Regions from separate parts of the Homo sapiens genome. Here region 2 is linked to region 1. The links come from fine-mapping of genetic effects on gene expression. A gene starts in region 1. The other region holds a variant in brackets. All regions are shown on one strand. Distances are between the middles of the regions.

Region 1 (2,760 bases):
GTGAAACCCCGTCTCTACTAAAAATACAAAAATTAGCTGAGCATGGTGGCGCGTGCCTGTAATACCAGCTACTCGGGAGGCTGAGGCAGGAGAATCGCTTGAACCTAGGAGGCAGAGGTGGTAGTGAGTGGAGATCGTGCCACTGCACTCCAGCCTGGATGACAGAGCAAGACTCTGCCTCAAAATAAAACAAAAAAACAAAATACAGCTCTCCAGAAAAAAATGCCTTAAAGACAAAACAAAACACCCCTGCCCTCCAAATCTCTTGCCTGAGTCACTACATTCCTTCAAAGATAAATGACCTACTCTTTGCCTTCTCCTAAACATACGATCATGTCTGACAGGGTTAATGATTATACTCTGCAATCTATAACCAGATATACTTATCCCTAAACTTTGATATGATTTTACACATACTAAATCTTCACCTATGTATAACCTAAACTAAAATACCGTGTTAGAGGAGCCTCACAAGATTACTCCTGGGCTACAGGCCTCAGTCTATAGTCCTCAATAAGGCTTCTAAATAAAACTAATTTTAATTATTTAAAAGCTTAATATTTTTTCTTTAGTCAACATACCAATCCTTACATTAATTCTACAGAGTAGGTATTATCTTAGTTTCGCAGGTGAGGAGACTAAGGTTCAGGAAAAAGGATTTGCCTGAGTAACAGACCAGGCCGCGCGCGGTGGCTCACGCCTGTAATCCTAGCACTCTGGGAGGCCGAGGCGGGGGGATTGCCTGAGCTCAGGAGTTCGAGACCAGCCTGGGCAACGCGGTGAAACCCCGACTCTACTAAAAATAAACACAAAAAATTAGCTGGGCATGGCAGCGTACGCCTGTAGTCCCAGCTACTTGGGAGGCTGAGGCAGGGGAATTGCTTGAACCCGGGAGGTGGAGGTTGCAGTGAGCCGAGATCGCACCACTGCACTCCAGCCTGGGCGAGACTCCCGTCTCCCCAACGCGCCAAAAAAAAAAAAAAAAAAAAGGAAAAAAAAAAAAAACTGAGTGTTGAGCTGCGGCGTTGCTTGGCTTCAAAACCCATTCCTGTAACCTCTATATTCACAGCCTCATTTTCTTACATTTAACAGCATGCTACTTCCCCAGGTTTAACCACCATTTGTTTTATTCATTTATTTACCCAATAGGTAGATATTGAGTCCCTACTATGTCAGCTAATAAAACCCACCACGTGCTATGCAGCAGATTAAAAACGAGGATGTACTGGCAAATAAGGGCAGAGAGGATCTATTCTAGATCCAGGAGCCCTCTAGGCCACGCCACTCTGAAACACACACGAAAACTGCTCTGAACGAATACCACCAGTAAAAGGGTTCCATGGCCATCGGCAACAAGGGGTCGAGATCAGGAGGTCGCTCGCCGCCCAGTTGCGTCGCTCACCACCGGCCGGCCACCAGACCCTCGGCTTCCGATCCAGAAACCGTATTTTGTTCTTGCACCCAGACCGCAAGAAGCCTCAGCCCTCGGGGACAGACCGAAGGCCAGGGCTGTACCTGGCTCAGAACCAGGCGCCAAGCGGCACGGGACTCTCCTTCTGCACTCGCAGCGCGTGAGTGCAATTGGAGATCCTGGACTCAAGATGTTTTCATGAGGAACGATTCCAGCCCGCGGTAACTCCGGCCAGTCTGCAGCGTGGACGACAAAACAGGCACCACGTGGTTCCGGCGCCGGGGCGGGGCCAGAGACGCCGGAAGTGACCGCGCGGTGCGCCGGCCCGCGAGGAAACGCGCTCTTAGACCATGGCGACCCAGGCGAAGCGTCCACGGGTGAGTGGCGGGCGCGGGGTCCAGCCTTTTCCTCCGCGCCTCACCCCTTCTCCGTTCGCAGAACCGTCCGCCTGCGCCCCCTCCGCTCCCTCCCGCGGGTCCCGCGCCCCTCTCCGCTCGTCCCCTCCTCCACCCAAAGCCCGTTCTGCGCTCGCGCCGCGGTCTCCTGCAGTTCCCAGCGGCCTCTCTGGGGGTCGGACCTGGTCACTGCGCGCACTTATCTCAGGTGGCGGGGCCCGTGGACGGCGGCGACCTGGATCCTGTGGCCTGCTTCCTGAGCTGGTGCCGGCGGGTGGGGCTGGAGCTGAGTCCCAAGGTGAGCGAGCGAGCCGGCGGGCGGAGGACCCGCGGCGGGGCGCGGGCTGCCCTGACCAGCCCTCCTGCTCAGGTGGCGGTCAGCCGGCAGGGCACGGTGGCCGGCTACGGCATGGTGGCCCGGGAGAGCGTGCAGGCCGGAGAGCTGTTGTTCGTGGTGCCGCGGGCCGCGCTCCTGTCGCAGCACACCTGCTCCATCGGCGGCCTGCTGGAGCGAGGTGGGCACGGCGGCGGGCTAGGGCCCTGGGGCGGGGCGGGGCGGGGCGGGGCGGGCCCGGCCCGCGAGGCCGCGCCGGGGCGCTCACACCTGTGTCTTCCTCAGAGCGAGTTGCGCTGCAGAGCCAGTCGGGCTGGGTGCCACTGCTGCTGGCGCTGCTCCACGAGCTGCAGGCCCCGGCCTCACGCTGGAGGCCCTACTTTGCGCTCTGGCCCGAGCTGGGCCGCTTGGAGCACCCGATGTTCTGGTGAGAGCCTTGGGAGGGGTTGGGGAGCGCCTGCACCGTAGCCTGCTGCAAGAAGTTTCCCCGCCCCTGCACCAGTCCTACCCAGTAAAGTGTGTGAAGGAATGAAGGGAACCTGGGTGTGGGTGTCCCTGCAGGCCAGAGGAGGAGCGCCGGTGCCTGCTCCAGGGCACAGGCGTACCTGAGGCCGTGGAGA
Region 2 (3,020 bases), 53 kb after region 1:
ATCAGGCCAAGCATGGTGGCATGCGTCTATAGGACCACCTACTCACAAGGCTCAGGCAGGAAGACTAAGCCAGGAGTTCAAGGTTGCATTGAGCTATGATTGTGCCTGTGAACATGCACTGTACTTCAGACTGTACAACAACACAGTAAGACCTCATAAGAAAAAAAGAAAGAAAGAAAAAAAAAGGCTGAGCATAGGTGGCTTATGCCTATAACCCCAGCGCTTTAGGATGCAGAGAGGACTGCTTGAGCCCACGAGTGAGCCATGATCACATTACTACACTCTAGTCTGGGTAATAGAGTGAGACTATTTAAACAACAACAAAAAGAAATAATGCTGGCCGGGCGTGGTGGCTCATACCTGTAATCCCAGCGCTTTCGGAAGCCAAGGCAGGAGGAGTGCCTCAGCTCAGGGGTTTGAGACCATCCTGGGCAACATGGTGAAGCCCCATTTCCACAGAAAATTAAAAATAAAAATAAATTTAAAAAATAGGCATGCATGGTAGCATATACCTGTAATCCCAGGTAATTGGAGGCAAGACATCATCTCAAAAAAAAAAAAAAAAACCTTCTCATAAAGCAAAACGACAGGGTATGGGCTGACTTCCTCTCCTTCATAAAAGCAACTAGAAAAGTGTCTGAATCAACTTTTTCAGAACTTTGGAAGTTAACCAAAGGCTTATAACAAGTGGGAAATTTTTATTCAAGAGACTATCAAGTTTTCTAGCACATTAATTTGCCCTATTATTCCCATCTCCAGCTCCACAGCCAGCTTAGAAGCTGACAGCCCTCAATCACAATGAAAACCAGAAGCCTGAGAGGTGAATCAAAACAGGGTTAAAACATCTTCAAAGCCTCCTTCTCAGTGAATTGTCATTATTTCATCTGTATAGGGAGTCTGTGTGAGAACACAATGACAAGGTTGGATTTATTTGACCTGAAAACTGACCCAAACAAAAACCTTTTCTGCATGAGGTGTTTACAAAAAACATTTGAAAGTAACTGTTTTAAACTTATTGCCTATCTGAGGTGGAAGACTACTACAGTTGGAGCAAACTACATACAGGCTAACTAAAAATCTGTAAAGAAGGCCGGGCACGGTGGCTCACGCCTGTAATCTCAGTACTTTGGGAGGCGGGCGAATCACCTGAGGTCGGGAGTTTGAGACCAGCCTGCCCAACATGAGAAACCCTGTCTCTACTAAAGAAAATACAAAATTAGCTGGGCGTAATGGTGCATGCCTGTAATCCTAGCTACTCGGGAGGCTGAGGCATTAGAATCACTTGAACCCAGGAGGTGGAGGTTGCAGTGAGCCGAGA[T/C]TGTGCCACTGCACTCCAGGCTGGGCAACAAGAGCGAAACTCCATCTCAAGAAAAAAAAAAAAATCTGTAAAGAAAAACTTTGAGCCGGGTGCAGTGGCTCAAGCCTGTAATCTCAGCACTTTGGGAGGCCAAGGCAGGCAGATCACGAGGTCAAGAGATCGAGACCATCCTGGCCAACATGGTGAAACCCTGTCTCTACTAAAAATACAAAAATTAGCCAGGCGTGGTGGCATGCTCCTGTAATCCCAGCTACTCAGCTGAGGCAGGAGAATCGCTTGAACCCCGGAGGTGGAGGTTGTAGTGAGCCGAGATCGTGCCACTGCACTCCATCCTGGGCGACAGAGCGAGACTCCGTCTCGATTTTAAAAAAAAGAGAGAAAAAAAAAAAACTTTGGAAGTAAAGACTAAGGTGGCTGTGAATTGCCTGGCTTAGTGCTGAATTGATTCCCAAGATTAGGTTTAAGAAAATCTCGTCAATCTTAGCTGACAACAAGGCTAACCAAGCAGGAACTTCAGTAGCCAACTATTATAAAGAACAGAATTAGTTCAGGAAAGTCACTAAACAAAAAAAGGGCAATAACGAACAATGTGCTCTGCTGAAGAAGGAAGATCTGATTCCAGGAAATGCCATATTATTTAAAGTTGTCTGTTTTCAACAAAAAAATTACAAGACTTGTAAAGAAACAAAAGGGTGTCCCATGCAAAGGGCTGGAAAGCTATGTAGAAATGATCCTTGAGGAAACACTGCTGTTGGACTTACTAGACAAGGAATTCAAATCAGTTACCAAACACATTTATTTTCATTTTATTTTGGTTTTTGAGACAGAGTCTTACTCTGCTGCCCAGGTTGGAGTGCAGTGGCACAAACTCGGCTCAGTGTACCTTCCATCTCCTGGGTTCAAGCAATTCTCTTGCCTCAGCCTCCCAAGTAGCTGGGACTATAGTCGCCCTTCACTATGCCTGGCTAATTTTTGCATTTTTAGTGGATACGGAGTTTTGCCATGTTGGCCAGCTGGTCTCAAACTCCTGATCTCAAGTGATCCACCCACCTTGGCCTCCCAAAGTGCTGCTGGGATTATAGGCTGAAGCCATGACACCCAGCCACTACAGAACACGTTTAAAAGAAAATATATCAAAAGAACTGAAGGAAAACATAGGAATACTATCTCAAAAAGCATGTCCATAGAAATTAGCAAAAAAAAAAACCAAAAAACAGAAATTCGTTTTTTCCCATCAGATACTACACTCTACAACATACCAAACAGAAAAAGTACAGTAACTGTAATAAAGTTTCACTAACCACATGTCCCACCACACATTCAAGCAGACAAAATAGTTCATTTGAAGATAGATCAATTAAAATTATCCAGCCTGAGAAAATGAAAAAAAAGGGGGTGGGGGGATGGGGGCTGAGAACTCAAGGACATGTGGAGCACTACTGAGTGTGCCACCACAAACATAATGGGAGTACAAGGAGAGAAGAAAAAGGTACGGAAAGATTTGTAGAAATAATGACTGAAAACCCGATAAATTTTATTAAAAACATTAATCTAGACACCCAAGAAATTCAATAAATTCTAAGTAGAATAAACTCAAAGAGATTCATACCTAGAATAACATAATCAAGCTGATGAAAGAAAAAAGACAAGGAGAGTATCTTACCAGCAGCAAGATAGAAGCAACTCATCACATACAATACTC

The links. PIP is the estimated chance that this variant, and not a neighbour inherited with it, causes the effect.
Region 2: its variant is fine-mapped to the expression of SETD6 in blood mononuclear cells (TOPMed, PIP above 0.99). The same link has a PIP of 0.9 or more in fibroblasts.

What each region holds. Positions count from the first base shown.
Region 1 is chr16:58,513,777-58,516,536 of GRCh38, forward strand. SETD6 (SET domain containing 6, protein lysine methyltransferase) reads left to right here and starts at 1,741. Exons shown (of 8, transcript NM_001160305.4): 1 at 1,741-1,788; 2 at 2,015-2,321; 3 at 2,426-2,567; 4 at 2,702-2,760. The coding sequence starts at 1,762. It also overlaps a transcript of NDRG4 not described here. RefSeq lists enhancers at 1,416-1,585, 2,626-2,760 and a silencer at 1,706-2,365.
Region 2 is chr16:58,567,003-58,570,022 of GRCh38, forward strand. The region is part of intron 16 of CNOT1 (CCR4-NOT transcription complex subunit 1); the gene reads right to left. Among named protein-coding and RNA genes, the nearest start is that of SNORA50A, 8.6 kb to the left of the region's middle. The variant T/C (reference allele first, on the strand shown) is at 1,319.